Regions from separate parts of the Homo sapiens genome. Here regions 2 and 3 are each linked to region 1. The links come from fine-mapping of genetic effects on gene expression. A gene starts in region 1. Each other region holds a variant in brackets. All regions are shown on one strand. Distances are from middle to middle.

Evidence for each region. PIP is the estimated chance that this variant, and not a neighbour inherited with it, causes the effect.
Region 2: its variant is the best candidate, but not a certain one, in a credible set for the expression of BTBD6 in whole blood (TOPMed, PIP 0.89).
Region 3: its variant is the best candidate, but not a certain one, in a credible set for the expression of BTBD6 in whole blood (TOPMed, PIP 0.61).

What each region holds. Positions count from the first base shown.
Region 1 is chr14:105,244,092-105,255,115 of GRCh38, reverse strand. BTBD6 (BTB domain containing 6) reads right to left here and starts at 6,583. Exons shown (of 4, transcript NM_001387567.1): 1 at 6,031-6,583; 2 at 5,869-5,959; 3 at 5,638-5,756; 4 at 4,023-5,476. The coding sequence starts at 6,404. The coding sequence ends at 4,444. It overlaps BRF1 (BRF1 general transcription factor IIIB subunit), which reads left to right. Exons shown (of 18, transcript NM_001519.4): 5 at 2,537-2,609. RefSeq lists enhancers at 4,586-5,375, 6,167-6,957 and silencers at 5,982-6,031, 6,232-6,791.
Region 2 is chr14:105,316,981-105,328,004 of GRCh38, reverse strand. The region is part of intron 1 of PACS2 (phosphofurin acidic cluster sorting protein 2); the gene reads right to left. Among named protein-coding and RNA genes, the nearest start is that of PACS2, 7.7 kb to the right of the region's middle. RefSeq lists an enhancer at 4,576-5,085. The variant G/A (reference allele first, on the strand shown) is at 5,266.
Region 3 is chr14:105,285,603-105,294,201 of GRCh38, reverse strand. It overlaps BRF1 (BRF1 general transcription factor IIIB subunit), which reads left to right. Exons shown (of 18, transcript NM_001519.4): 2 at 7,826-7,906. Among named protein-coding and RNA genes, the nearest start is that of BRF1, 11 kb to the left of the region's middle. RefSeq lists enhancers at 1-69, 710-829, 980-1,129, 7,381-8,279. The variant T/G (reference allele first, on the strand shown) is at 6,054.

The DNA.
Region 1 (11,024 bases):
TCCCTCTTGATCCCTGCCTTAGGGCAGACCCAGGTTGTTCACTGGCCTGGGCACACAGCTCATCAGACACCCACGAGGGCAGTCTGCAGGCAGAATCCACCTGCTGCCCAGGAAGAGAGATGGGGGGGGCAGCTGGCTGTGCCCCACCCTGACCTGCCCTCAAGGAGCAGCCACAGTTAGACTGTTAGCAAGAGAATTTCCAATAAATGGTCCTCATACATGGTAGCAACTCTGTAAAGAACTGCATGTATTTAGGCCGGGCGCGGTGGCTCACACCTGTAATCCCCGCACTTTGGGAGGCTGAGGCAGGCAGATCACCTGAGGTCAGGAGTTCAAGACCAGCCTGGCCAACATGGTGAAACCCCGTCTCTACTAAAAATACAAAAATTAGCTGAGCGTTGTGGCGGATGCCTATAATCCCAGCTACTTAGGAGGGTGAGACAGGAGAATCGCTTGAACCCTTGAGGTGGAGGTTGCAGTGAGTCACGATTGCGCCATTGCACTCCAGCCTGGGCAACAAGAGTGAAACTCTGTCTCAAGAAAACAAACAAAAAACTGCGGCCAGGTGCGGTGGCTCACTCCTGTAATCCCAGCACTTTGGGAGGCCGAGGCGGGCAGATCAGGAGGTCTGGAGATCGAGACCATCCTGTCTAACGCGGTGAAACTCCATCTCTACTAAAAACACAAAAAAATTAGCTGGGCGTGGTGGTGGGCGCCTGTAGTCCTGACTACTCAGGAGGCTGAGGCAGGAGAATGACGTGAACCCGGGAGGCAGAGCTTGCAGTGAGCAGAGATTGCACCACTGCACTCCAGCCTGGGCGACAGAGCAAGACTCCGTCTCAAAAACAAACAAACTAAAACAAAAAAACTGCACGCGTTTTGCACACATGGCTTTTTAAACGTGAGTTTCCATGTAAAGGCCCTTTGGAGATTCCTCACTTGCAGTGTTCAGGTCTCATTGATCCCTGTGTCTCTGGGACACAAGGTTGGGGGGTGTGGAGTTTGAGGTGGGCAGGCAGAGGCCAGCAGCAGATCATGGTTCTGCTGTGGCTTAAAGAGAGATGGTGGGATCAGGACGATCAAGATGCAGGGGCCTGGCAGGAACCCAGCACAGGGGCTGGGGCACTCATACATGACATGCGTGAGTCACACCTAGACACACTGTATGCGTGTGTACACACATGCATGTCTGCACACTGCATGCGGATGCACACACACACTACATGTGCTGACACGCCCCCCAGTTTGGTGAGCAGACCCCAGGGATCCCTGGAACCCCCAGAAACTGTGAGGAGGGGAAATTCCTTCAGAAGGCACACTCTGTGAGCCACCAGCCCTTGTGATGGAGCCCTCGGATATAATGGAGAAGATGGAAGCTGCGCCCCACTGGGGTGGATGGTGACCAGGAGGAGCTGCTGTGGGGGCCCAGCCCTCCCAGCGGGCAGGGTCCCTGATCAGAGGCATCCCCCACAAGCGCTGCCTCTGGCTCTTGCCTCTGTCTCTTGCCTCTAGCGCAGACAGGACCCTTTGTGTGCGGTCCCTTAGGTCTCCCAGTACCCTGGAGTCAGCAAGCACCTGGAAGTGCCACTGGCGGGCCAGGACAAGGGGACTTGTCTAAGGGCCCACGAGCCGGGCTTGGTCAGGCGAGGGAATTCTTTGGGGGAGGCTAGTGGCAGAGGGTCAGACTGGCCAAGCCTGTGAGGCCCGGGGGCCCCAGGGGCAAGCCTGGGATGAAGACAGCCAAGTGTGGGCAGGGCTCTTGCAGGCTCCAGTAGGGACCAGGCTATTCCCGCTGTGCACCTCATCCACACCTGCCAGCAGACATTGCTCTGAAGTGTCCTCCCCCAGCCAGCAGGGCTCCTTAGGGGTACTCGGCCCACGGCAGGGCTGTGCACAGGGTCTGCACACAGGCTAGAGTCCTTGTTTTGCTGAGGACAAGCAGCGGTGCTCCCATCACTGCCAGCCCTCGGCGTTGCCCTTCTCGGTCTGGGCCTCACCTCCACTGCCCTATGGCAGATAGCCGAGGCAGGGGTGACAGGATCTGTGTGGATTTGGACCTAAGGTAGGAACAGTGTGGGGGGCAGGGGAGTCACTGAGGAACACAGATCTCAGTCCCAGCAAGGGGGCTGAGGCCAAGACCCCTGGGCCCATCGGAATCTGGGCTGGAGGTGTGGCTGGTGGGAGCACATGTGGACAGAACTGGTTTTGTGTTCATGGGTGTGCAGTTGTGAATGAAATGCTGCGTGCACCGTGTGATGACGCCCTGGGAGGAACCTTGCAGTCAGGTTTTCTTCTAAGCAGATGCCATCATTGGCGAGACGGCAGCACGGCCTAAAGCAGCGGCTTAGAGGAAGAAGGCAGGGCCCTGGGAGCCCCAGCAGCCAAGGGAGGCCAGCCAGGCTTGCGGGTGTGGGGTGGCTGCTCCACGGGCCATCGGAGTCTTTAAAGACTGCACAAGAGATGCATTTTAAGAGAAAAAAAGCAAACATTTCCTTAAATACCAATGCTGTTTCTGGTTGTGATCTCTCCATCTCAGGTGAATGTGTACGTGCTTGGAAAGACGTTTCTTCTCTTGGCAAGAGAGCTCTGCATCAATGCGCCGGCCATAGGTAGGCATCTGGGTGAGATGCTGGGGTGTCCGGCAGGCTGCTGTAGGGACCAGCGTGCCAAATGTCCTTTGAACAGTGGAGGGAAATCCTGTCCAAGCATGGGACCCCTCAAGGTAAGAAATGTTTCTTAAAGCTGCTAGGAGCTCAGTAATGTGGGGCCTTATTTTCTAAGACACAGTCTCGCTGTTGTCCAGGCTGGAGTGCAGTGGCACAATCGTAGCTCACTGCAGCCTCAAACTCCTGGCCTCAAGTGATCCTCGTGCCTTCGCCTCCCAAAGCACTGGGATTACAGGCATGAGACCGCACCTGGCCTGGGGCTTGCTTTCTGCTGCAAAACCAGAAGGCCTGTTGTCAGTGCCTGTCAGGTGGCAGGAAGGTGTAGACAGGGAAACAAGTGCTGCGTGCTGGGAGCATCTTGTGTGGACAAGGTTTAAGGGACACACCTGGCTCCAGGTGCCTCTGGACAGATGGGGACAGTGGGGCAGCTCCTGGTTGTGCTTTCCAGCCACAGCCCTCTTTTGTGGTTTTTCTGCCACTTTTGTTCTGTGTTGTGTGCGAGTTTGTGGAACTCCTGTATGCCTTTCTTGATGTGTGTTAGGTGTAGGGTAAGTCCTGTCTCTCCCTCGAGGCAGCAGCAGTGTTCATGCATGCAGAATCTAACCTAGCGGAAAAGTCTAGAAGGAAAGGATCAAAACAGCACTCACTGCCCGATGGTTCTGACCTACCCTTTCTTTACCAAGCAGATGACTGGTTTCCATGGCCCGCTTAGAGGCCCCTTTCTTACTTTGCCTGTTTGCATCTAGGAGCGTATGTCCTTTGGGTAGAGAAGCACCAGGTGGGGCTGGGTCACCAACAGGACTGAGCAACACGGGCTGCAGCAGCAGAGGGGCACCGGCTGAGGCTATACACTCGGCCCATGCCCTCTCCCAGGTGCCAAGAGGGGCCATCCCTCTTTTCGGGGGTCATACAGGTTTTCCAGAAAACAACTGCCTACAGGGTATGCAGAGTGGGAGGAGAGAGACAAGGGGTGGGAGAGCCTGTTTCACCCTATAGTCCACTCCTGCAACAGGCTGTCCCGCAGCAGTGTCACAGCTAGTGACAGTCCCCAGGGTCCAGAACGCTGGGCCCAGCAGAATGCTCCCCCGACAGTCTGTTCATAGGGTAGGACTCTGAGGTGCTAGTGATGCATTAGGACATAGAGACAACCAGGCACCTGGTGTTTCCTAGGGTGGCCCAGAAGCCAGCCAGCAACCCAGGGGACAGATGGGCTTCACTGGGGCGCAGTTTGCTCCTAACCACATAGCATGTTCAGCATGACAGGTTTTCTCCTCGGGATGGGAGGGAGCTGTTCTGTTGCATGAGAAAGAGAATACCCCACTGTACAACTGCTGTAGTCATTTACTGACACGTGGGTGTTATTTTAGGCAACCTTTATTACAGAAGTCCACTATTTTAAGTGACTTTTTGCCAATTTTAGATTTGAAGGGAAGGTCTCAAGTTAAGCTTGGAACCACTTAGAATCCAAGAGGGTAGCAGGAAGATCCAACCCCTCAAAGCAGGTGGCATGGGTGCCACTGGGAGGGGATCTGGGGCCTGTCTTGAGCCGTAAATCTTCCTCCACCTGAGACGTGCACCCCACTGTACCAGAGATGCCTAAGACTCCAATCCCTGGGTTCTGGCTGTGTGGAAAATGTCTCTACACAGTCAAGCTTCAGCTGACTACATGTCAAAGAGAGACAAAGTTAAGAGCAGCCTTTCATGGTGTCAAGAAGCAGTTAGCATCTTGACTTCCCCTCCACTCACTCGCTGACCTGCTGCAGCCTCCCCGGGCACCTCAGGCATAGAAAATGAGCTCAGGGATCTGCCCACCCTGGACCCCAGTCCCGTTGGTGCTGTCCGAGGAGCACTGGAACTGGAAGGCCACCTTTCCACACTGCACTTCCGTCATCCCCTCCTGCCCAAAGTAGCTGAGTTCGCTGCCGTCCAGGACGGCACTGGCCGTGTAGAAGGTGTCTTGTTCAACCTGGACCGGGTGTTCAAACCAGACCGGGAAGGTGTTACTGGATCCGTCTGACATGAACTTGGTCAAGTTCTGAGCCAGAACCACCCCGAGCCGCTTGAGCTCAATCTTCACGCTGTACTCAGCCTTCCCAGAGCTGGAGCCATACAGGCCCAGCCCTGCAATAAATACCCTTCTGTCCACTGCAAACTGGATGCTGTCGCAGCGCCCGCGGTACCGCCACTGGTTGCTGCGGTAGGCAGAAGACTGGAATCGGTGGCACCTCTGCGGGGCGAGGCCCTTCCTCTTGGTCAGGGGAAAGTCCAGGCGGGGCTTGTTGGTGGCCGTGTACCACAGGAAGATGCTGTGGGTCTCCTCCAGAGTCAGGATGTCTGACTGGGCAGCGCCGTTGGCAAACTCCTCTAGGGTCATGGTTGGAATTCGGACCAGATAGAGGGCTCGCCCCAGAACATGCCTCTTGTTTCGTGGGGTGATTGGCAGCCCCTGCCTCTTGCACTCCGCCTCGGCCCAGTTCAGGACGGCCTCGAAGACCACCGCCTCTTTGGTGTTGAGGGCCTCCCGAGTGACAATGATCTCCAGCGTCTGCCGGTCTATCTCACAGAAGCCTTCGGACCGTAGGGCCATCTCGGCCTGTGCGTCAATGACCTCCCAGCAGCGCTGCGTCAGCTCGGGCTCCTCAAACAGCCGGCTCTGGGACAGCAGGACGCAGGCGTTCTTGGCTTCCAAACTTGTCTCCAGAAAGTTGACACAGGCTTTTGCCAATGCTGGGACGATGTACTTCTTAGCAGCGTACAGAGTGGCCAGCACCGTGTCGGCTTCCAGATCGATCTCATCACTGTACATGTACCTAGGCGAGGCAGGGCCCGCGTCAGGGGCTGGCTCCCAAGCACCCATCGCGGGGCTGGGCCTGGGAGAGGAGTCCATCAGCTCCTGTGTGCTTCCCTTCAGAAGCCTCCGGAGGCCGCCTAAAACGGACCCACCCGTCCCTCCCCAGTAGAGTGGACTTACTTTAAGAGGATCAGAAAGGCTGCGGGCTCCACGTCTGGAATGTGAATTTCAGATTTGACTTCCGCCAGGTCTCCGTAGAACATGGCATAGAAGACGGAGCTGCCGACAGCCAAGACGTACTGGGAGGAGAAAGCGCCGCCGTGAGCCTGGCTCTCCCGCAGGCTGCGTGTCAGCCACACGGCGGACGGGGCGGACGGGGCACGCGTTCCGAGAGGGGCCGCCGCTACCCACCTTGTGGGCGGGCACCGTCCTGGTCGCCCCCGGGGGCCCCACGACGAAGTGCACGTCGGCCATGAGCTCGTTGTTGAACATGAGCGCGTTCCTGCAAAGGTAGAGGCACGGGCTGGGGGCGTGGGCGCGCGCGGGCGCGGGGGCCGCGGGGCACGGGCTCACCTCTCGCGCAGCGTGGGGCGGCAGCACCGCCAGCCGGGGCTCTCCTGGTGGTTGTTGCCGAGTGTGGGCGGCGCGGGCGCGGGCGGCGGCGGCGCTGGCGCGGGGGCGCTGGGCGGGCTGCGCGGCCCGGCCTTCCTGCCCACGGCGGCGCCGGCGTTGCTGTTGGCTAGGTCCGCGGCCGCGGCGCTGGCGGGAGCGTAGAGTTCCGCCGCCATCTTCGCGGGCGGGGCGGCGGGGGCAGCCTCGGCGCCTGTGGACGCCGCGCCCCGCGCCCTCGCGCCGCGCCGGGGCCTCGGGAGCGGCTCTGCAAGCAAAAGCAAGGAGGTCAGGCACTGAGCGACGCGGCCGTGCAGGCAGGCTAGGGGCAGCAGCATGGGCGGCGGCGGCGCTGTGACCCGCGGGGCTGCCACCCGCTCCCCTGCCACCCCCGCCCCTGCGACCCTGCCCGAGCCCAGCCTAGCGCAGCCCGGCCAGGCCCGGCCGCGGGGGGCGCCGTCCCGCCCGCCCGCCCGCCCGAGCCCGTACCCGCCGCGGCGCCGGTGCGTCACGCTGCGTCAGGGCCGCGCCCCGCGCGACGTCGCTGCCTCGCGGCCCCGCCCCCAGGCCCGACATCCTCGAAGCTGCTCGAGCTTCTGCCCAGCAACCGGCGCGAGCCGCGCGCTGTGCAGAGGTAGCCGTGGAAGGCGGCTCCCGGCGCTGGCAGGCGGCCGCCCCCAGACCCGCAGTGCCATGCGCAGGTGCTTGCGCCCGTTCTTCAGTTAGCGATCTTTTGGTTAGGAACGCAGGTGGACCTGCTTGTTTGGCCATTTGCATTCCGGAGTCTGCCTCTGGCCGCGGCCTGTGGGATGGTCGTTGGGCTTCCTCGTTCGTTCAGATGCTTCGCGATTTAGCTTGCTACGGACGCCAGCAGCCAGCGCTTGCAGAGAGCGCGGTCCACTCTGCTCTGAGGGCTTTACAGGGGCAGGCGCTGCTATTTCCCGGCATTTTCCTCGAGGAAATAGGCACAGAGAGGTTAGTCGCGCGCTGAAGGTCACACAGCCGGCGGGTGGGCAAGTCAGGATCTGGCCCTGGGCCTGCAGCCCTGGAGCTTGGGCCCCAGGGCGCGCCCTGCCTCTGTGGCTCTGCCTGTGGATCGCAGTCGCAGGCTCGCTCCTTGTGGGGCCTCTAGCCTCCCGGCCTGGGGCTAATCCTGGGAGGTGCGTGGCATGGGGCACTGGCTTTGCTGATGAGGAGACCAGACTTCAGAGGCCGTGTCACCTGGCCTGGGCCGCACAGCTGGTGCATGCCAAGCTCGCGTGCAGACGAAGCTCCAGAGGCCTGGCTGTCAGGAGGGTTCCTCCCCGAGGACACACACGCAACCTCCTGGACCGCCAGGCTTTAGACTTTTAAAACTTCCATATGCAGGAAACCCCACAGGACGCAGCCAGCATCTCGGGTCATGGGTGCACCTGTCACCGCAGTCCTGGGCTAAACAGTGAACAGGAGCTCTGTGTCTCTGTGGTCGTTACAGTTGTAGTGAATGTTCCCTGGGAGAGTCCTCTTCAGAAGATATTTGCGGTATTTTCAACAAAGGACTCTCCAGGATGGAGGAGCAACTACAAGTCAGGAAGGAAAAGGCTGACAACCCAGTTTTTTAAAAAACGGGCAAAGGACGTGAACAGACACCATGCAATGGCCCAGAGTGCACAAATCATCATTTCTCCCAGGAATGGGGTGCCCGAGCCCCCAGGCGGCTGAACTTGAGACTTGTCACGTAGTGTTGGTGGAATGCAGAGCAGCTGGAGATCACCTGCTGCAGGTGGGTGCGTAACTCCGCACGGCCAAGCCGTTTGGAAAGCTGTAGCATATGCATGAGAGTCCGGAAAGTTCCGAGAGAAAGTGTGTGGATGCACCCGCCAAGGACACACCCACCGAGGCCACAGCTGCGATTTCATAGTGTGGGACCCCACTGGCAAAGACACGCTGGCTGCTGTGGCCGTGGTTTCTGTCCCAGCCGTCTGTTTCCATAGAAAAAGGTAACGGGCATAAGCAGTTTCCAGGAGAAATACAAATGGCCAGAGTGGAGACAGCCTACATGTCCATCAGCAACAGAAAGGATCAGCAGGTTGTGGTGGGTCCATTTGGGGAATGCAGTGAGAAGGAATAACTTACAGCAGCACACAAGACCTGGGCGACAGCTGTCTCCGGGGGTGCCAGGATAGAATTGCTGAGCCGCCAGAGGTAGTCAGCGTCTTGATCTGCATGGTGGTGTGGAGCATGTGAATAATAATTTTCATCCTTAGAAAGAAACCACCCTTTGCACTTTGATTTTTAAATATGTTACAGTGTAGGTTGGGCGCGGTGGCTCACGCCTGTAATCCCAGCACTTTGGGAGGCCAAGGTGGGCGGATCACTTGAGGTCAGGAGTTTGAGACCAGCCTGGCCAACATGGTGAAACCCCATCTCTACTAAAAATACAAAAATTAACGGGCACCTGTAATCCCAGCTATTCGGGAGGCCAAGGAAGGAGAATGGCTCGAACCAGGGAGGCGGAGGTTGCAGTGAGCTGAGATCATGCTACTGCACTCCAGCCTGGATGACAGAGCGAGACTCCGTTGACCAGGCTGGTCTTAAACTCCTGGCCTCAAGTGATCTACCTGCCTAGGCCTCCCAAAGTGCTGGGATTACAGGTGTGAGCCACCGCGCCCAGCCTATTCTTTTTTGTTTGTGATAATGGTCATCCTAATGGACATGAGGTAGTGTCATGTGGTTTTGATTTGCATGTCCCTGATAAATAATGATGTTGACCATCTACTCATGTGCTTGTTGGCTATTTGCATGGCGTGTTTGGAGAAACGTCTGTTCAAGGGCTTTGCCTTTTTTTTTTGAGACAGAGTCTTACTCCGTTGCCCAGGCTGGAGTGCGGTGGTGAGGGTGCACTGCAACATCCGCCTTCCAGGTTCAAGCGATTCTTGTGCCTCAGCCTCCCAAAGAGCTGGGATTACAAAAGTGCAGTTTGCCCATTTTTAATCGATTTTGTTCCTGAGTTGGAGTTTTTTGTATATTCAGGCTGTTAACCCCTTATGAGATAGATGGTTTGCACATAGTCTCTTCCATTCTATAGGATATCATTTCTGTTAATAGATTCCTTTGCTGTGCAGAAACTTTTTAGTTTGAGGTCATCCCATTTGTCTATTTTTACTTTCGTTGCCCTTGCTGTTGGTGTCATGTTCAAGAAATCATTGCCAAGACCAATGTCGTGAAGTCTTTCCCTTTGTTTTCTTCTAAGGGTTTTACAGTTTCAAGTCTGTGTTTGGGTCTTGCATCGGTTTTGAGTTAGTTTTTGTGTATGATGTAAGGTAAGGGTCTATCTTTATTTGCAAGTGGATATCCAGTTTTCCCAGCGCTGCATATTGAAGAGACCATCCTTTCCCCATTGTGCAAGAAGTTCTTGTCACCCTTGTTGAAGGTCATCTGTCTGTCATTGTCATTTCTGGCCCTGTGCTGTCCTGTCCTGTCCTGTCCTGTCCTGTTCTGTTCTGTTGGTCTGTAGGTCTGTCTTTATGTCAGCACCATACTGGCTGTTGGACTTTTTAATTCTTTTCTTGACAGTGGTAATTTATTTGCTTCTTTTTCTTATTAGTCCCTTTGCCTACTTTAAATAATTAATTTTGTTAATTTTTAGTTTTCTGTTATTTTAGTTCATTAATTTCATTGCTTCCTTTATTTATTTATTTATTTTTTTTGAGATGGAGTCTTGCTCTGTCACTCAGGCTGGAGTGCAGTGGCACGATCTCAGCTCACTGCAACCTCCACCTCCCAGGTTCAAGTGATTCTCCTGTCTCAGTCTCCTGAGTAGCTGGGATTACAGGCACTTGCCACCATGCCCGGCTAATTTTTTGTATTTTTTAGTAGAGACGGGGTTTCGCTGTGTTGCCCGGGCTGGTTTCAAACTTCTGAGCTCAGGCAATCCACCTGCCTCGGCCTCCCAAAGTGCTAGGATTACAGGTGTGAGCCACCACGCCTGACCCATTGCTGCCTTAAATACACAAAGCGCTTGAGTTAATAAAGTTACCTGAAGGATTGAACTTTAATTTCTAACAGCGTTTGGAGGTGAGGGGACTACTTGTTTTTGCTCATTTTTAGTTTTTTTTTTTTTGCACTTGGGGTCAAATGGCATGTCCTATGTGCTGTTACCTGAAATATATTGAGGGTTTCTTTGTTCTATCATACCTGGTCATTTTCATAACTGTCCCACAGACACTGGAGAAGCATGATGACTCCATGGGGTACAGAATTTAGAACATCCTTGTCAGATTGAGTCTATGGTGATGTGTCTTAAGTCGTCCCTTAGTCTTTTTTTTCCTAATCAGTCTGTCAAATTTCAGAGAACCATGTTAAAATCCCCTATTATTGTGGTTTTGAAGGTTGTTTCCAGTGTTTTTCCTTCATTTAATTCTTCCTCTGTCGCTGTGCGCCTGCAGATTCCAGGCTGCTTGACATGGGTTCCTTTCCATGATGAAATGCCATGCCTGTCCCGTGCCGCTCTGCCACTCCGCGTTTGCCCACCGTGCCGCCGCTGCCCACCACTTCCTCCTCCACCCTAGTCACTGACAGATTTGTCTTGAAAAAAACACTTTTTGCTTGTCTTTTTTGTTTTTTGTTTTGAGACATGGTGTCAGTCACCTAGGCTAGAATGCAGTGGCAAGGTCATGGCTCAATGCAGCCCCGACCTCCTGGACTCAAGCAATCCTCCCACCTCAGCCTCCCAAGTAGCTGAGACAACAGGTATGCATCACTACACTAGGCTAAATTTTTCATTTTTTGTAAAGATGGGGGTCTCACTATATTGCCTAGGCTGGTTTCAAACTCCTGGGCTCAAGCGATCCTCCTGCCTTGGCCTCCCAAAGTTCTGGGACTCACAGGTGTGAGCCACTGCATCCGGCCCCAGATTTTTGTTTTAAGAGATGGGGTCTTGCTGTGTTTCCCAGGCTGACCTCGAACTCCCGGGCTCA
Region 2 (11,024 bases), 73 kb before region 1:
CGGGTGGCCTGGGCCGGTGAGCCAAGGCTCGGCTGTCAATGGCCCCTCGGGTGGCCTGGGCCGGTGAGCCAAGGCTCAGTTGTCAATGGCCCCTCGGGTGGCCTGGGCCGGTGAGCCAAGGCTCGGCTGTCAATGGTCCATCGGGTGGCCTGGGCCGGTGAGCCAAGGCTCAGTTGTCAATGGCCCCTCGGGTGGCCTGGGCCGGTGAGTCAAGGCTCGGCTGTCAATGGTCCTGCTCCCTGGCAGGGAACCGCTCGAGCCACAGTCGCAATCTCTGGATATCATGTTGCTAATTAAAGAAACCTCCAAAACCTTCGATAGCCCACCAGAGTCAGGTGCAGTCCAAGAGCCTGGCCAGCTGTCCTCTGCCCCTGCCACATCCTCCCCAGGCAAGTACAGTGAGCAAGCGGCAGAGGCATGAGATGCACCACCCTGCCCCCAGCACAGGCTCCGAGCGCTAGCGGCAGACACCTGCTGTGATTCCTGGCCCCGCCCCCAGCACCATTTGACAGGACCACGGCAGGAGAACAACTCCACCCCAGCCCCCTGTCACCACTTGCCGAGGGTCTGAGAAGCAAGAGGATGGTGCAGGAGCTATCCACGGGAGCCAAGGTCCCCGCCCCTCAGGCCCACGATCCCCAGTGCTCAGGCAGTCAGCGCAGCAGGCAGTAGCGGCAGGCACTGACCTGGCCGCGCACATCCCCTCAGGCTACCACCACTGCAGCCTCTCGACCTTCCTGGACCCCTCCCCAAGGCCTGCCCTCCTTCCCCCTCGCTTCTGAGGCTCGCTCTGTGTGGCCAGGTCAGGCACGCCGGCCTCCCAGCTGGTGAGATACCCCTTGGCCCTGTGGCCTTGCAGCTGTTCTTCACGCCCAAAGCTGACACCTCCCGCAGGAGACAGCGACGCTGGACCTGATAGGTGCTGTATTTATAAACATAAGCCACGCTCAGCTCCGTTTCCAGCTGAAGCCATAGCCAGGCGAGCCAAGAGTGCGTCGATTCGGGTGTAGTGACTTAACTTTCCAAGGCGCGACAACCTTTACGTCCAGCTAGGTGGGAAAAACAGGAAGTCCAGGGCCAAGCTGGAAACTGCAGGAGCCGAAGGAACAGCAGGACTGACTGCAAGGGGCAGGCTGGCGGTGACTGGAGGCCACCCAGGGCACCACAGCAGCTCCCACCAGGAGGAACAGTAGAGTCCTGGCCGCAGGGTGAACGTGGAGCTCATAGCAGAAAGCACGCTCAGGCCAGGAGAGCCCAGACCTCAGGGTGGGTCTTCACGGCCAGAGCTCCCGCTCCCCTCCCTGGCTAGGCCACACCCCAGGCTTGAGGTGGGGGAGGAAGGAGAGCCCTAGGCCAGACCGAGGGGCCTCATGACCTGACACTTGGGTGGCACACAGGCAGCCCGAGAATGTGGAAGGGCCACCCTCCCGGGCCCCACCACGGAGCACCTTCTAGAGGCACCGGCGGGCACTGCCTGAAGCCTGAGCCGCCATCCCTCTCCTTGGTGCTCAGAGGAACGAACAGCCCAATTCAGCACCGCACCAGGAAGGCCTGGCCCCGAGGGACTGCCTGCTAGCAGGGCATCGGCCTCCTGCCACTCACCCTCCTGAGGCGCTCCTGGGGCGACTGGGAAGATGCAGGATGTCTGGTATGTCCACCCTCAAACTGACCAGGAGCGAGCTCATACGGAAGCCTCAACTCCACTGCTGCTGCGGAGCCCCCGCCCCACCCGTGTCCAGGACCAGGAAGCAGGTGCGGGTCTCAACTCCACTGCTGCGGGGGAGCCCCCGCCCCACCTGTATCCAGGACCAGGGAGGCGGGCGCTGGTCTCGAGGCGGCCCTGGAGACACCTGCACGAGCCCAGCATGCAATGCCCATGAAAAGTCTTGCCCAATTATTTTGCATCTAAAAAGAGGGAAGTCCTGGCTGGGGCCATACAATAAAGAAATATTGTCAATGCCTCCTGCAAGGTCAGCTACAGAATTACACTGGGAAATGAGACTCAAATTAAACAAAAGATGCTGGTGGCATCCTAGCTGTCAACTGGTCCCTGGTCACCTCTGTCCTGATGCAGATGTGGGACTCCCAGAAGGTTGGAGAGTAAACAAAGGCATGGAGGAGGGGCCCAGCAGAGGGGCCAAGCTCGCAGGACAGCAGCCCAAGGTCAGGGCCCTTCCCATCAGCATTGGCTTGGTGCCGTTCCCCGTGCTCACCAGAACAAGAACAGCATTTGAGAAGAGGGATGTGCATCTGCAGGTCTGCCTCGCTGTGGATCCACATCCTGGCCTGCCAGGGAAGGGACAGTGCTGGTCACCCCCACAATGGCCATCTCCCCAAGATGAAAGGCATCCTGGGGAAGGCTGAAGGGAGGCTGGACTGCATGGCCACTTTGCTGCCCAGCTCAAGACACACCTGGCTCCTGGGGCTGCTGAGCTGAGCTGCCTGTGCGTGGCGGCTGCTGCCAGCTGCTCTTAGGACACGGGCTGGATGGGGCAGTCGAGAGACAGAAATGCGAGACACAGCATTGCACCGAGCGAGCTGACCACCTGGGCCTCAAGCCCGTGGATCCCAAACTCCTCTGCCAAGCAAGGCCCAGGATGTTGGCCCGAAAGGTTGTGCAAGGGCTGCATGGGGACTGAAGGCCCTTCCAAGTCCCCTCCCCTGCTCCAGCTCACCCCACCTTGTCTCAGGACTCAGGGGTCATTAGAACCCATCTGTCTCCTTGCTGAACCCCTGAAGAGAGCCGCTACCCTGAAGCAAACCCTCCCCCAGCCCCACCCCACCCCGAGCCACAGCACTGACCCCTCCACAACCACTGTGTCCGAGCCCCCCCCCGTCCCACCACCCTACGACGGTGCCCTCAGGGCTGGGACACAGGCGAAGAGCCAGCTGGAGTGTCTCTGCACTTGGCCAGGTGCTGCCTGTGTCCGGGGGCAGGGGGTGCCCACAGCTTGGCCAGGGGGTGCTGAGGAAAGGCTGGTTGGGGCAGTGGAGCGGAACAGCCAGGCCCAGAGCGGGTTGCTCAGCCCCAGGCCCGTGTGCACCCCCAGCAGGAAGGGCAGACCCACCCCTTCCCCAGTGTCTTCCCTTGCCCATTTCTGCCCCTTTTGGGTCCTGACTCCTCTGTTGAGCGGCATCTGCACCCCAGGGGACCCAGCATGGCCCCTGACCATGCAGAGGACCTGGGGCTACGGCCATGAATGTCCCGGGCCTGAGAGCAGCCCAGCAGTAGCCAGTGCTCCCTGGGGCTCCTGGAGAGCCTGCCCCCCATCCGTGGGGTGAGACGGGGCGCCACCGGCCTCCACAGGCCGGAGCCCTCGAGGAGCTGCTGACGACCCCAGCACCATGACCAGCAGCCACGCTCTCATCACTCTCACAACCCTGCTAAGTCGGCCTGAGCTGAGCACACATCGGCGCGCGCCTGCGGAGCAGAAAGGGACGGCCTCTCAGCGCTCGGCTATTTTTAGGGCTGCCTCTCAGAGCAGCTGCTGAGCCAGCCAGGCCCAGCCACCCTGCGGGGCCAGCAGCTCACAGGCCTCAGGGCTGCCCTCAGCGGGAGCCTGTCCTACAGAGACCCTCCACGGCCAGGCAGGAATAAGCACGCCACACCCTGCCCCCTGGTCCTGGGGAAAGCACTGTACAACCTCCATCCTGCCACCCCTTCCCACCTGCACCTGAGCACCCTGTCTCGGCAACGCCACTGCCTGCCACCACCACACACAAGTCACAGGGTCCAAAGAGACCCCCGTCACTGTGACTGACCGCAGACCCGCTCTCTGCAGCAGCCCCCCGACCCCGCCACAGCACCGCAGCTGCCCACTCCATCAAACCTTCCTGAGACGCATGCTGAGAATGCTGGGCAGAGAGAGGGAAAGGGCTGGTTCTAGTGCCCAGATCCAAGGAAAGCATCCTTTAGTCCAAGGGCACTGTAGCCCCCTGCCCTCCATCTCCTGCACAAAAGCCAGTCCCCAGCAGGAGACCCACTGACATGTGACTCCAGTGTTGACAGCAGGACAGAGCTGCCAGAGGTTTCCAGGCATCTTGAAAGCAGGGCACAGCCTGCGCGGACAGAGCGGTGTGCACGCACCGTGCAGGCCACGGCGATGGGCCAGGTCCTCCGAATCCCCAAGGCCTCCAGGGCTACGGGCACCGTCCTGCTGCCCCTTGGCCCCAGCTCGAGTGCTGCCCAGCCTACAGGCCACTGGCTGCCCAGGTCAGCTTCCTCAGCCCCTCCCTCAGAGCAGCCCATCTTCCCTGGATCACTGCAGACCACCTCCGAAAGCCCTGTCCCAAGCCCTGCACGACACCTCCCACCCATCTCCACCTGCACACCCTGAGGCAATCTCCACCTCCAGTGTGGTCCACCACTCCAGCAGCACTGCTCTCCCAAATACACACACTTGAAATAGTCCAGCGACTTCCCCACCACTCAAAATGAAACCACACTCCTTGGCATGACATCCTGGTTCCATTACAGGAACGTCCGCCAAGGAGCTACACTGTGCAGGCTCTGGGCAGCACCGAGCAAGGCAGACAGGGTCCCGCCGTGAGAGTCTCGTGCAGGCTGGCAGCGGTCAGTAGGCAACATGCGTCCTGAGGAGACGCCCCTGCACGTGGACAGAGGCAGGGGGAAGGGCTGGAGACAGGCTACTGCCCCAGCCAGCCGCCGCCCACTGACACCACCCAGTGCATCTATGGATGTGGAGGATCCGGCAGGAAGAGCAACACGTCCAATTGTTGCTCCAGAGGTGAGAGAGAGAATAGCGCAGAACCAACAGCAGAAGAAAAAGTGGCTGAGAGCTTCCCGGGACTCATGAAAATCATCGATCCACAAAGTCAGCAAGTCTAGTAACCCCGACTCAGGCAATCACAAGAGAACCCACACCAGGACCCACCATGAGACGACCGTTGGCAACGATGACATGACCACAAAGCCACCCAGACGTCTCCCTCCAGCCTGTCACGGCCGCTGACCTCTTACAGCAAAGCTGGAAGTCAAAGCCAGGGACGCCCTGCCTGGACCTGTGGGAGGAGCACACACCACCCCAGCATCGTACAACCAGCACACGCCCTGCTCAGGGTGAGGGTAAACTAAAACATCTTCAGACAAACAGAAAGAGAAGGTAGTTATCAGCAGATCCTCACTAAAGGAAATCCTAAGAACAAATATTCAACAGAAGAAGGAAAATGATTCCTGACATGCAAGAAGAATGAGCAACAAAGGAAGTGGTGAGTTTTGAAGCTCATCAAATATCACAGTATAAA[G/A]CAGTAACAACATCTTGTGGGCTTCACAAGAAAACAATTAAGATACACAGTAACAAAATCATATAAATATAAACATGAAAGGGTTGGATTAGAATAAAGTGGGCTAAGGTCCCTGCATAGTTCAGCAGGAGAGTAAAGATACAATTAACTATGCACATTAAAATGTACAGGGTAGGCTGGGCGTGGTGGCTTATGCCTGTAATCCCAGCACTTTGGGAGGCCGAGGCGGGCAGATCATTTGAGGTCAGGAGTTCGAGACCAGTCTGGCCAACATGGTGAAACCCCGTCTCTACTAAAAATACAAAAAAATGAGCCGGGTGCGGTGGCGCGCACCTGTAGTTCCAGCTACTCGGGAGGCTGAGGCACAAGAATCACTTGACCTGGGAGGTGGAGGTTGCAGTGAGCCAAGATTGCGCCACTGCATTCCACCCTGGGCAACAGAGCAAGACTCCATCTCAAAAGAGAGAGACTCCGTCTCAAAAAATAAAAAATAAAAATAAAAAAAGGCCGGGCACAGAGGCTCAGCCTGTAATCCCAGCACTTTGGGAGGCCAAGGCGGGCGGATCACGAGGTCGAGAGTTCGAGACCAGCCTGGCCAACATGGTGAAACCCCGTCTCTACTAAAAATACAAAAATTAACTGGGCGTGGTGGCAGGCGCCTGTAGTCCCAGCTACTCGGGAGGCTGAGGCAGGAGAATCGCTTGAACCCGGGAGGAGAGGTTGCAGTGAGCCAAGATTGCACGACTGTACTCCAGCCTGGCGACACAGCGAGACTCTGTCTCAAAAAAAAAAAAGTCAGAAAAGGTCAGAGTGAATGAAAATGAAATCTAGATACATGCTGAATAACCAAAGACACATCTAATATGTAAGGATATACAAAGGTTTTTAAAAAGGATAGAAAAATAGCTAACAGGCAAAAATTATCCAAAAGAATGCTTGCATCAAAGTCAATACTAAAGACAAAAAGCATTACTAGATATAAAAGCAGTCATACAATGAGAAAAGTTCAAAATACCTAGAATTACAATTCTAAACATGTATGTACCTAATAACATAGCCTCAAAAATATATTAAGTGACGGGGCGTTAGTGGTTCATGCCTATAATCCCAGCACTTTGGGAGGCTGAGGCAGGTAGACTGCTTGAGCCCAAGAATTCAAGATCAGCCCGAGCAACATGGAAAAACCCAGTCTCTACAAAAAATACAAAATTTAGCCAGGTGTGGTGGTGCACACCTGTAGTCCCAGCTACTCGGGAAGCTGAGGTGGGAGGATCGATTAAGCCTGGGAGTTCAAGGCTACAGTGAGCTGTGATCGTCCCACTACACTCCAGCCTAGGTGACAGAGTGAGATCCTGTCTGGAAAAAAAAAAAGTATCAAACAGAAACTGACAGAACTGTTAGAAAACCCGGACCAATCTATTCTCAGATTATAAGATTTTAACATACATTTCTAGTAGACAAAAAAAGGGAACGGACTTGAAGACCACAGTAAACCAAGCTTGATCTAATAGACAAACACTGCACCATCAACTGCCAAACACACATTCCTTTTAAGTATAAACAGAACGTGCATTAAAATTGACACACTGACCCAGAAAGCAGGTTCAAAAAAAAATGTTTTTGCAGTGGCGCCATCTGGGCTCACTGCAACCTCCGCCTCCCAAGTTCAAGTGATTCTCCTGCTTCAGCCTCCTGAGTAGCTGGAATTACAGGTGCGTGCCACCACGCCTGGCTAATTTTTGTATGTTTAGTAGAGATGGGATTTCACTACGTTGCCCAGGCTGGTCTCGAACTCCTAACCTCCGGTAATCCACCCACCTCAGCCTCCCAAAGTGCTGGGATTACAGGTGTGAACCACCAGGCCCGGCCAGTCAGGTTATTTTATAAGTGAATTATCCCAAACATTCAAGGAAGAAATGATTCCAATTTTACATAAGCTATACCACGATACAGCAAAAGAGGCAGTACTCATTTCATTTCACAAGGAAATCTTAGCGCCAAAATCTGCTAAGGACTACAGAAGAAAGGAAGCACATAGACCCCAGACACACATGCAGAAGTCCTAAACAAGATACTATCATCTAAACCCACCAATGTGGGCAGGTAGGGAGGCTCACACCTGGAGTCCCAGCTCTTTGAGAGGCCAAGGTGAGAGGATCACTTGAGGCCAGGAGTTGGAGACCAGCCTGAGCAACATAGTGAGACCCCATCTCTACAAAAAATTTAAAATTAGCCAGGCCAGTGGCATGCACCTGTAGTCTCAGCTACTCAGGAGGCTGAGGCAGGAGGATTGCTTGAGCCATGGTCACACCACTGCACTCCAGCCTAGGCAAAAGAGCAAGACCCTGTCTCAAAAAATAAATACATAAATAAATATATATCCACCAATTTTTAAAAAGGGTAATACAACATGCTTAAACTAGTATTTTTCCAGGAATAGGTTAATGTTAGAAAATCAATTTACGGCCAGGCATGGTGGCTCACGCCTGTAATCCCAGCACTTTGGGAGGCTGAGGTGGACGGATAACAAGGTCAGGAGATCGAGACCCTCCTGGCCAACACGGTGAAACCCCGTCTCTACTAAAAATACAAAAATTCGCTGGGCGTGGTGGTGCACACCTGTAGTCCCAGCTACTTGGGAGGCTGAGGCAGGGGAATTGCTTGAACCTGGGAGGCAGAGGTTGCAGTGAGCTGAGATCACGCCACTGCACTCCAGCCTGGTAACAGAGCGAGACTCTGTCTCAAAAAGAAAAGAAAAGAAATAAAATCAATTTATGTAATTTACCACAATAGTAATGAAAAGATAAAAATTATATAATCCTCTTAATGAAAGTACTTGATTATATTCAACATCCACTCATAATGATTTCTTTAAAAAGCCTTTGCAAGTCATGAATAGGATGAGACTTTTTAAGTGCATAAAGGCTATCCACAAAAAGTTGCAGCAAACATCGTCCTTAAAGGTAAAACACTGGAAACCTTCCTTAAGGTCAAGACAGAACACGGGTAATCCACGCAACCAACCATATTCAACACTGTACTATGACAACTGGCACAGTCAGGCAAGAGAAAGAAAGAAAAGTATGAGGATTGAAAAGAAACAACTTTGTCTTTTGCAAAAGACAAAACATACATTTTGAAAATACAAAATAATCTATAGATAAGTTACTAGGTTAAAAATAGTAAAATCACTGATTTCTTTGAAAAATCAACTGAATTTCTATATGTTAGCAACAAACATAATAAAAAGCTGACTTTTACTATGACTTCTAAAATACAAGCATCTAGGAATAAATGTAACAAAGGATATGCATGACAGCAGAATCTTGTAAAACTCTCAAAATACATTCAAGACCTAAGTAAATAGCTTGATCATGAATGAGAAGACTCAGTACCACACAAACGTCAATTCTCCCCAACCTGCTCTACAGAGTTAAAGAACTTCCAATTATAAACCAAATGTGGCTTTGTGTGAAACTTAAAAAGATAATTCTGGCTGGGCGTGGTGGCTCACGCCTGTAATCCCAGCACTTTCAGAGGCCAAGGCGGGCGGATCACGAGGTCAAGAGATCGAGACCATCCTGGCCAACATGGTGAAACCCTGTCTCTACTAAAAATACAGAAATTAGCTGGGCGTGGTGGTGCACGCCTGTAGTCCCAACTACTCAGGAGGCTGAGGCAGGAGAATTGCTTGAACCCGGGAAGTGGAGGTTGTAGTGAGCTGAGATCGTGCCACTGCACTCCAGCCTGGGCGACAGAGCTTCTCAAAAAAATAAAATAGGCAGGGCGTGGTGGCTCACGCCTGTAATCCCAACACTTTGGGAGGCTGAGGCGGGCGGATCACGAGGTCAGAAAATTGAGACCATCCTGGCTAACACGGTGAAACCCCATCTCTACTAAAAATATAAAAAAAATTAGCCGGGCGTGGTGGCGGGCGCCTGTAGTCCCAGCTACTCGGGAGGCTGAGGCAGGAGAATGGTGTGAACCCAGGAGGCGGAGCTTGCAGTGAGCCGAGACAGCACCACTGCACTCCAGCCTGGGTGACAGAGCGAGACTCCATCTCAAAATAAAATAAAATAAAATAAAAATAAATAAATAAATAAATAAAATAAAAATACAAAAATTAGCCGGGCATGCTGGCAGGCGCCTGTAGTCCTAGCTACTTGGGAGGCTGAGGCAGGAAAATCGAAACAGGGAGGCGGAGGTTGCAGTGAGCCGAGATTGCACCACTGCACTCCAGCCTGGTGACAGAGTGAGACTCTGTCTCAAAAAAACAAAACAAAACAAAAAAATTAGACAGACATGGTGGTGTACACCTGTAGTCCCAGCTGCTCAGGAAGCTGATGTGGGAGGACTGCTTGAGCCCAGGTTTTAGGGGTTACAATGAGCCATGATCAAGCCACTGCACCCCAGTCTGGGCCACAAAGTGAGGCTCTGTCTCTAAAAACCAAACAGATGGCCAGGCCCAGGGGCTCATACCTGTAATCTCAGCACTTCGGGAGGCCGAGGTGAGAGGATCACTTGAGCCCAGGAGTTCAAGACCAGTCTGGGCAACATAGGGAGACCCTGTCTCTGCAACAACAACAACAAAATACATAAATAAAAACAAATTAATAAACATCAACCGAAAAAACAATCAAGTGGGAAGGGCAAGGTACAAAGCAGCCCAGCCCTTGCTGAAGAGCAGGTGGGGGCGCTCAGGGACATGGGCACCAGGAGGACACTCTGGGAACCCAGGAGGCAGAGGCCACAGACAGGCACTGACGCATACCCCGTGGACCACCTAGGAGCACCGTGTGTAACAGTGCTGAGCCAAAAGCGTCGCAAGGAAACCCGGAGCACAGGCCTCCCCAACAACAGCCCAGCATGCCCAGTTCAAGCTCCCGGGGGCAGACTTCTCCGGCTGCCTCCCAGAAGGAGAACCGAAACGAGACCAGCACCCCAGCCTGGCAAACAGTCAATGTGCACACTCCACCAGGCTGACACGGGGAGTGCACCCAGAGGCTGCTCAGAGAGCAAAGACTCGCTCATAACTGGACGGGGACATCCTCAACACAGCCGAGAAAGGATGACTATCTCTAAAGAAACTGCTGAAACTCAAGCAGAAAAAAAGAGAAAAAAAAACTGGCAAAGGAACAGGAATTTCACTGACAAGGAAGTACAAATGGCCTAAATTAGTAATCAGAGAAATTCAAGTTAAAACCACGATACCACTTCACACCCACCAGACTGGCAAAAATTAAGTCAAATGAGTGTTGGCACAAATGTGGAGCAGTGGGGACTCTCGTCCCTGTCAGTGGGGGCCGGAGCAGGCACAACCACTCTGGAAAACTGCCCAGCAGTAACGCTGAGTGCGTGCACACCCCCACCATAAATCCTGGTAGCTGGCGGTACATGCTTAAGACAGGCCCTGCCCATCCAGAAAGACACACGCAGAAGACTGGCACACGATGTCCACAGCAGCACGGGGCTTGTAATTAACCAAAAAACTGGAAACAAGCCAAGGTCCCTTGACAGAAGCAAAGCCGAGGTACTGTCACGCCAGTGAATAGTACGCAGCAGTGAACACGCCGAAAGGCATCAGCACACACGCAGCCCAGAAGCTTCATGGCTGGGCAAAAGTGAGGAGTACAGAAGAACTCAGGAGGAACAAAGCAAAACTAAGTAGCAGACTGTCCGAGGATGCACGGACAGGCGGCACAAGCACAAAGCAAAGCTAGGGGCAAGCCCGCCTATGAGGGGCCCTGTTCCAGGACAGG
Region 3 (8,599 bases), 40 kb before region 1:
CCCCTGGGGACCGGCGCAGGTGGTGCCTGGGCCGAGAGTGGGGAGGAGAGAGGGGATCTGTTGCTCTGGGCAGCCCCTCTGTCTCCCAGGCAGGCTCTCTAGGTGCCCACTTGGCATCCTTCCTCCCTCGTCACAGTGGTGATCACAGGGGGCTGGAAACCTTGGTGGCTTCTCAGTTTCCCTGGCACACAAGTAGGCCCCAGCCGCCCCTTCCTCCAGCTTCATCTTGAAAGCTGAGCTTTCTCTCTGAGCTGTCGTTTTCTAGTCCCAAGGCCACTGTCTTTCCTAGGTGTTTTGCCTATTAATTGAGAACTAAGCCTGATACAGCTTCGCAGTTTACTCTGGAATATTTAACTAAGGCATCAGGGCAGGTGACCAGAGGCCTCAGGAGAGTCCCCAGAGGGTCCTGACCTTGGAAGCCAGGCCCCACGGGGGAAACCACACTGGTGCTCCAGCGTCCCGGGGCACCCGAGCAGAGACTGTGCAGAGAGAAGGGTGGGTGAGGACTGAGGCTCAGCGTGGCTGGAGGGGCCAGGCAGACGGTGGAGTTGGGGGCCGTTGGCAGTGCCCTGAGGAGGCCGTCTGCTCCACTGAGGCAAGGCGGGGCTTCCCTGTGAGCCCACATCAGTGTCCTGCACTGTGTGTGCCCTGAGGCTTCCCTCTGCCAGCAGGTGATGGTGATGGCGCCCACACACCAGACATCCTGGGCTCCTGCTTGCAGGGGTCCCTCCTCGTCCTGTGCAAGGAGCAGCACACCTCAGTGTCACCAGAACTTGTGGGGGTGGGGAGCGTTTCCCGTAATCACAACTTTCAGTGGCTTCACAGTTAGAACTTCGAAGCTGGGGTGTCCGTGAGTGCTGCTGTTTTCCGTTTGGGGTCACGATGCAGCCGGACCTAATTTGTGACATGGCTGCATGTCACCTGGCGCTGGCCCTGGAGGGGGACATGGGTGGTGGAGTTGCCCTCGCCTGCTGGGAAGCTCCCTCTGCCTCAGAGAAGGATGTGACCGGCCAGCCTCTCCCTGCGGCCTGGGGTTCTGAGCATGCGCCTGGCCTCCTGGCGGGGCTCTAGTCCTGAGGGTGGAAGGCTCCAGGCTTCTGCCTCTGCTCCATGACCCCCAGAACCCTAAGTTGTGGCTGAAGGTGCCTGCTCTTAGGAAACGGGTGAATTCTGTCCCGTTGCCATCTGGGTGAGGGAGGAAGCTGCTGGTTAGCCTGCAGCGTGACACACGTCCTGTTTTCCGTAACCAAATTGTAATCACTACAAAACCAGCTCCTCCGCAGTGGCCTGGGGAAGGGGCCTGGGCTTGGGAAGGGGTCTGGACCTGGGGAGGGGATGTGGGCCTGGGGAAGGGGTGTGGGCCTGGGAAAGGGTTGCTCCTGGGAAGGGTCTGTGCCTGGGAAGGGGTGTGCGCATGGGAAGGGTCTGCGCCTGGGAAGGGGTGTGGGCTGCCGTGCTTGGCCCTGTTTGTCAGTGCTCCTCCCAGATGTCTGATGCTACTGCATCCAGCCCCACCAGTAGGCACACGCTCTGTGTTCCCGGGTCCCCGTCCCCAGCTCTCAGGGATGCACTGCGGTCTGGTCCAGCCTCCTTTGGGCACTCACCTGTGGGACCCCTGAATTCCTCTCCATCCATTACTGCCCAGCCAGCCAGGCCTCCTACAGGTGTCTCCCCTTAAAAGAAGTTTCCAGTCAGGTTTGGTAGCTCATGCTTGTAATCCCAGGATTTTGGGAAACCAAGGTGGGAGGATCACTTGAGGTCAAGAGTTTGAGACCAGCGTGGGCAACATAGTGAAACTGTCTCTACAAAAACTAAAAAAACAAAACAAGAAAAAACCCCAAAATACAAAAATTAGCTGGGCATGGTGGTGGGCGCCTGTAATCCCAGCTACTTGGGAGACTGAGGCATGAGAATCGCTTGAACCCGGGAGGTGGAGGTTGCAGTGAGCCAAGATCGTGCCATTACACTCCAGCCTGGGCGACAGGAGCGAAACTCTGTCTTGTCTTCAAAAAAACAAACAAAGAAAACAAAAAATAAGAAAACATTAGCTAGGCGTGGTGGCGCATGTCTGTGGTCCCGCCTATTTGGGAGGCTGAGGTGGGAGGATTCCTTGAGTCCGAGAGGTTGAGGCTGCAGTGAGCCGTGATGGTGCCCCTGCGCTTTAGCCTGGGTGACAGAGTGAGACTTCTTTTTTTTTCTTTTTGAGATGGAGTGTCTCTCTTGTTGCCCAGGCTGGAGTGCAATGGCGCAATCTCATCTCACTGCAGCCTCCGCCTCCCGGGTTCAAGCGATTTTCCTGCCTCAGCCTCCCAAGTAGCTGGTATTACAGGCATGTGCCACCATGCCCGGCTAATTTTTGTGTTTTTAGTAGAGACGGGGTTTCGCCATGTTGGCCAGGCTGGTCTCAAACTCCTGACCTCAGGTGATCCACCCGCCTTGGCCTCCGAAGGTGCTGGGATTACAGGCGTGAGCCACCACGCCCGGCCAGACCCTGTCTCTTAAAAAAAGGAAGTTTCACAGCAGCAACAGAAAGTCTCCAGTTAAAAAAAAATTTTTTTTTGACAGAGTCTTGGCTCACTGCAACCTCCATCTCCTGGGTTCAAGCAGTTCTCCTGCCTCAGCCTCCCGAGTAGCTGGGACTACAGGAGCACACCACCATGCCTGGCTAATTTTTTTTTTGTATGTTTTAGTAGAGACGGGGTTTCGCCCTGTTGGCCAGGCTGGTCTTGAACTTCTGACCTCAAGTGACCCACCCACATCGGCCTCCCAAAATGCCGAGATTACTGTCATGAGCCACTGAGCCCGCCCCCAGTTAAGTTGAATGAGCACGTGAATATTAAAGGTTATTGCTTTCTCATGTTGGAAGAATCCTGGTGTGAAATGGACAGTGCTGTGCTGGGTCTTTCAGGACATGGAGGGCCCCTGGCCCGCCTTTCTGTCTGTTCGGCGGTATGGGGTGTTGCTGGCTTTGTCGGAGCTCAGAGGTGCCCCTGCGGCCTCTGGCCCTGCTCTGGCTCTGGTGGAACCGCAGGTCCTCCCTTGCTGTACACAGGGGGGCAGTCTTGGCCAGGCCCCACAAGACCTGGCCCCTTCCACATGTCAGTTCCAGCTAACGGGAACTAGCACATATTTTTTGTTATAGAAACACGCTATGGAAAATACCAAATGTTTTTAGAAGTAGAGGGCATCCTGGCAGTTTCAGCCAGAGGTGGCACTTTCCTCTTTCATCCTCCCTGTGGGTTAGTGTTCTGAGGTTTCACACTGTCCACATGTGTCCTGTGTGTGTGTGCCTGCAAGTGTGCACGCACCAGGGTGTGAGGCAAGCAGAAGCCAGGAGGCGCTTCCAGAGCAGGTGCAGCAGCGTGGCCCCAGGGAGGGTGACTGTGGTGTTGGGGGACAGGGAGAACAACACAGGGACAGGAAACAGAGGTCCTGGGGTGTGAGGAGGGTATGGGAGGCTGGAGGGTGCAAGACAGAGTGATGGAGGAGGGAGGGCAGAGGTGGCAGGTGGAGCGTGGAGCTGCTGACGCATGCAGCTTTGCAGTGTGCTGTGGTGCAAGCTGATGGGTATGGGTCAAGGAGTGAAGAGATTGCGTAAAACACAACCAGAATCGAAATCATCACTGTAATTTAACGTGGCATCTCACTGTGGCCCTGTTCTGTCAGAAGCACGCCTGCAGCCCACTGTACCTAGGCAGGGAAACGTGGCTATAATGGAGGCTGTACGGCGTCCCCTGTTCTTGGAAGGTGGGGCTTCAGGGGCTTTTTATTTATTTGTTTTTGAGATGGAGTTTCGCTCTTGTTGCCCAGGCTGGAGTGCAATGGCGCGATCTCGGCTCACCACAACCTCTGCCTCCCAGGTTCAAGTGATTCTCCCGCTTCAGCCTCCTGAGTAGCTGGGATTACAGGCATGTGCCACCATGCCTGGGTAATTTCATATTTTTAGTAGACACGGGGTTTCTCCTTGTTGGTTAGGCTGGTCTCGAACTCCCAACCTCAGGTGATCCAACCGCATCGGCCTCCCAAAGTGCTGGGGTTATAGGCGTGAGCCACTGCACCCAGCTGGCTTTTTATACTTTGATCATTGTCCTTTTTCTAATGTAGTGTTATATGAGTTATTTATTAAAAGCATTATATACACTAATTAGAATATAGTGAGATTTTTCTTTTTCTAAAGTGAAAGTTGGTGAGGGAGCATGTGCTGGAGACCAGCATGCCAGGGGCTACACAGAATGGTGATCTTAATTCGAACGCTTAGAAAAAACAGGCGGGGCGTGGTGGCTCACGCCTGTAATCCCAGCACTTTGGGAGGCCGAGGTGGGTGGATCACTTGAGGTCGGGAATTCAAGGCCAGCCTGGCCAACGTGGTGAAACCTCATCTCTAGTAAAAATACAAAAATCAGCTGGGCGTGGTGGCACGCACCTGTAGTTCCAGCTACTCAGGAGGCTGAAGCAGGAGAATTGCTTGAATCCGGGAGGCGGAGGTTGCAGTGAGCCGAGATCGCACCACTACACTCCAGCCTGGGCGATAGAGCGAGACTCCGTCTCAAAAAAAAAAAGAATACACACTGCTCACAAAACAAAGAACTCTGAGGGAGGGTCGGAGTTGCAGGCACCTGGAGCTCAGCCTGGGGAGGCCTGGGCCAGATTTCTGCAGAATTTAGAATTGGCTCATCAGTGCTGCTCAAAGCCCCCTTATTCCAGGATGGGTCTCTCCTGAGTCCTGCGTTTCTCCCTGGCCTCTCTTCTGGATTCTCATATCAGCAGGCACCTCACTGTGGCCCTGCCAGGTCCTCTCCAGCCCCCACAAGGAGACACCACTGCGACCTGCTCCAGCTTCTGTTTAGTTTATTATTTGTTCAGACAGGTTCTCACCGTGTTGCTCAGGCTGGAGTGCAGAGGTGCATCACAGCTCACTGCAGCCTCCACCTTCTGGACTCAAACGATCTGCCTGCCTCAGCCACCTGAGTAGCTGGGACCACAGGCATGCCCTACCATACCCCGCTCATTTTTTTTTTGTAGAGATGGGATCTTGCTATGTTGTCCAGGCTGGTCTTGAACTCCTGGGCTCAAGCAGTCTTCCTGCCTCAGCCTCTCAAAGTGCTGTGATTACAGATGTGAGCCACTATGCCTGGCCTGTTCTAGCTTCTTTTTTTTTTTTTTTTTGAGACAGGGTCTTGCTCTGTCACCCAGGCTGGAGTGCAGTGGCACGATCTCAGCTCATTGCAGCCTCGACCTCCCGGGCTCTAGTGATCCTCCAACCTCAGCCTCCTGAGTAGTAGGACCACAAGCAGGTGCCACCACACCCAGCTAATTTTTTTCAGTTTTTTTTTGTAGAAATGGGTCTCCCCCCATCCTGGCTAACACAGTGAAACCCCGTCTCTACTAAAAACACAAAAAATTAGCCGGGCGTGGTTGCAGGCACCTGTAGTCCCAGCTACTCGGGAGGCTGAGGCAGGAGAATGGCATGAACCCAGGAGGCAGAGCTTGCAGTGAGCCAAGATCACGCCACTGCACTCCAGCCTGGGTGACAGAGCGAAACTCTGTTTCAAAAAAAAAAAAAAGAAAGAAAGAAAGAAAGAAATGGGTCTCCCCGTGTTGCCCAGGCTGGTATTGAACTCCTGGGTTGGGCGATCTTCCTGCTCCGGCCTCCCAAAGTGTTGGGACCACAGGTGTGAGCCACCATGCCCGGCCACCACTCCAGCTTCTTTTTTACTTTATTTTATTTTTATTTTTATTTTTATTTTTTTGAGACGGAGTCTTGCTCTGTCACCCAGGCTGGAGTGCAGTGGCACCATCTCTGCTCACTGCAACCTCCACCTCCTGGGTTCAAGCGATTCTCCTGCCTCAGCCTCCTGAGTAGCTGGGATCACAGGCACCCGCCACCACGCCTGGCTAATTTTGTATTTTTAGTAGAGACAGAGTTTCACCATGTTCGCCAAGATGGTCTCGATCTCCTGACCTCGTGATCCACCCACCTCGGCCTCCCAAAGTGCCGGGATTACAAGCGTGAGCCACCGCGCCCGGACCTTCTACAGCTTCTTGAAAGCCAC[T/G]AGGTTTGTGGCAATTTTTATGGCAGCCACAGAAAACTAGTACATAGATCCCAGTTGTGACAACCTAGGTAGTCTCCAGGCACTGCCCCCGTCCCGGCACCACCTTTGTTGGAGGCCTGTGCTCAGTGCTGGTGCCCTGCTGCTGCTGCCGGCCACCCCTGTGGCCACGTTACCCACCAGGAGGCCGGCTCTGGGCCTCAGCCTGAAGGAGGCCCGGGCTTTGCCTCTGCTGCCACCAGGAAAAGCTGAGTGCCACCTGACCCTGTTCAGCTCTGAGTTTCCGGACGGGCCCAGTAGCTGCCCCTTGCTCTCTTCAAAACTTTTCTTGGCTGCTCTAATTCCTTTTTGCTTCCAACTGAACTTTAGAATCATTTTACTGGAGTCTTTAAAGAGTGTTGTTAGTATTTGTTTGGGATTCAGTTACATTCATTGTGAAGCCAGAGGCCGTGCCTGTTCTGCCTTGTCTGTGCTGGTGGCTGCCCCTGGATGACGCTGAGGTCCCTGCCTCATGGTTTCCCTGGAGGGCCTGGCCCCAGGCTCCAGCGATTGGCTTTCTGCTTCTGCATCCTATCCTTCCAGTGTCCTCCGACAGGCCCTACACACTTGCCTTCCCCCAAGTGGCCAAGGTTGTCTGCGCGTCCCGATTGCAGCAGCCTCCAGTCCTGTGTCTGTGCTTTGTCACAAATGCACTGGCCCCTGTGCCAACCACTGAGGGCCGACGCTGCGGGGCGGGGGGCACTTTCCAGCTCTCCCCATCTTTGGGCATGCCTGGGGCCTCACCTTACTGTTCTCGTTGGAAGATCAGGCCGCAGCGTTTGGGTTGGTGAACCTGGTGAACAATCCACATGTCCACCATGCTCATTGGGAGATCAGGCTGCAGCGATCGGGCTGGTGAACCTGGTGAACAATCCAAATGTCCACCTGATGTTTCCAGAGGTACCAGGGCCAGGTCTTAACCCCGAAGCCCTGCAGGGCAGAATGTGGTGGACGTCGTAGGCATGCTGTCAGTTGGCAGAGCTTCGGAGTAGAGTGTCCAGCAGGTTCAGCTGCAGCCTCCCCATGGGTGGGTGGACTGAGGCGTGGGGGCCTTCTGCAGACTGGCTGGTTGCAGTGCCTTGGGGCACATGGGATGGTACCTGCGTCCCCTGCAGTCCAGCAGGGAGGTGGATGTGTTCACATGTGGTCACCATGCAGGAGTGATATCTGAGTGGGCTGGCCTGGGGCAAGGGGGACGGCCAGCCCATGCTGTGTGTGCACCACTTGCAGAGGTTTGGAGGTACATCTGTGTTCTCGCCCGGCAGCCATTTGACAGCGTCCACTCTGGACTTGCAGTGTGTTAGGGACATGGTTAGAAAATGCAGAAAGTGCCTGTAATCCCAGCCGGGCGTGGTGGCGGGCACCTATAGTCCCAGCTACTTGGAAGGCTGAGGCAGGAGAATGGCGTGAACCCAGGAGGCGGAGCTTGCAGTGAGTGGAGATGGGACCACTGCACTCCAGCCTGGGCAACAGAGGGAGACTCCGTCTCAAAAAAAAAAAGAAAATGCGGAAAGTGCAGTTGGCCCACCCTCAACCCTGCTGGCTGGGCAGAGTGAGAGATGCTTCCCCCACTGGGGTTCCTGGCTCAGTGACGGAGGTGCGGGGGGCCGACCTGCTGCTTCCCCCATGAGTGCTGACCCCCGCTTTGTTCTCACTTTGTGTCTGTGGATGTTAGGAAAGGGTTGTAAATGCAGATCTCCAAGTTTTGGCTGATCTGTCTTTTTTTGTGTTTCCAGGTGCTGGCAAAACCCCGACTCTGGGTGGCGGCTTCCACGTGAATCTGGGGAAGGAGTCGAGAGCGCAGACCCTGCAGAATGGTATTTCCCACCGCGGATGCTGCTGAGCGTGCGGCGGGTCCCAGAGATGGGGATGGTGGTGCTAGGGTGGAGGGCACTGACTCAGCCATGGACCTCATGGCCTGCCACTTCCTCGTCACCCTGCACGCCCAGCCCAGGCTGCTTTCCAGGAGGAATTGTGCCCTGAGTCCCCTCCTGGGTGTCCTGCAGACTCTGCCAGGGCTGTTTGGGGAGAACCCAGTGGATCCCACAGGATCCACAGCCATTGCTTGATGGCCTCAGTGAGATGGAGGCAGAAATAACACATTTATAGCAGTTGGATATTGTAGTGACATTCTCACTGCGTTTTGTCAAAGTGCCAGTTCACCACAAACTGGAGAAATGTCTGCTGGGTTATTTGTCTTATGATTGAGTTGAAAAAGTTCTTTATGTGTTTTAGGTACAAGTCTTTTATCGGATGTGTGATTTTATATATTTTAGGTGCAAGTCGTTTATCGGATGTGTGATTTTATGTGTTTTAGGTACAAGTCTTTTATCGGATGTGTGATTTATAGGACATTTTCAGCCATTTCATGCGTTCTTTTCATTTTCTTTTGTCTTTTTATTTTTCGCTGGTATCCTTTGGAGCATGAAAGTTTTAAATTCTGATAGTATCCAGTTTACCTATTTAGTCTCTTGATGGCTGTGCTTTTGGTATCATAACTAACAAATGTT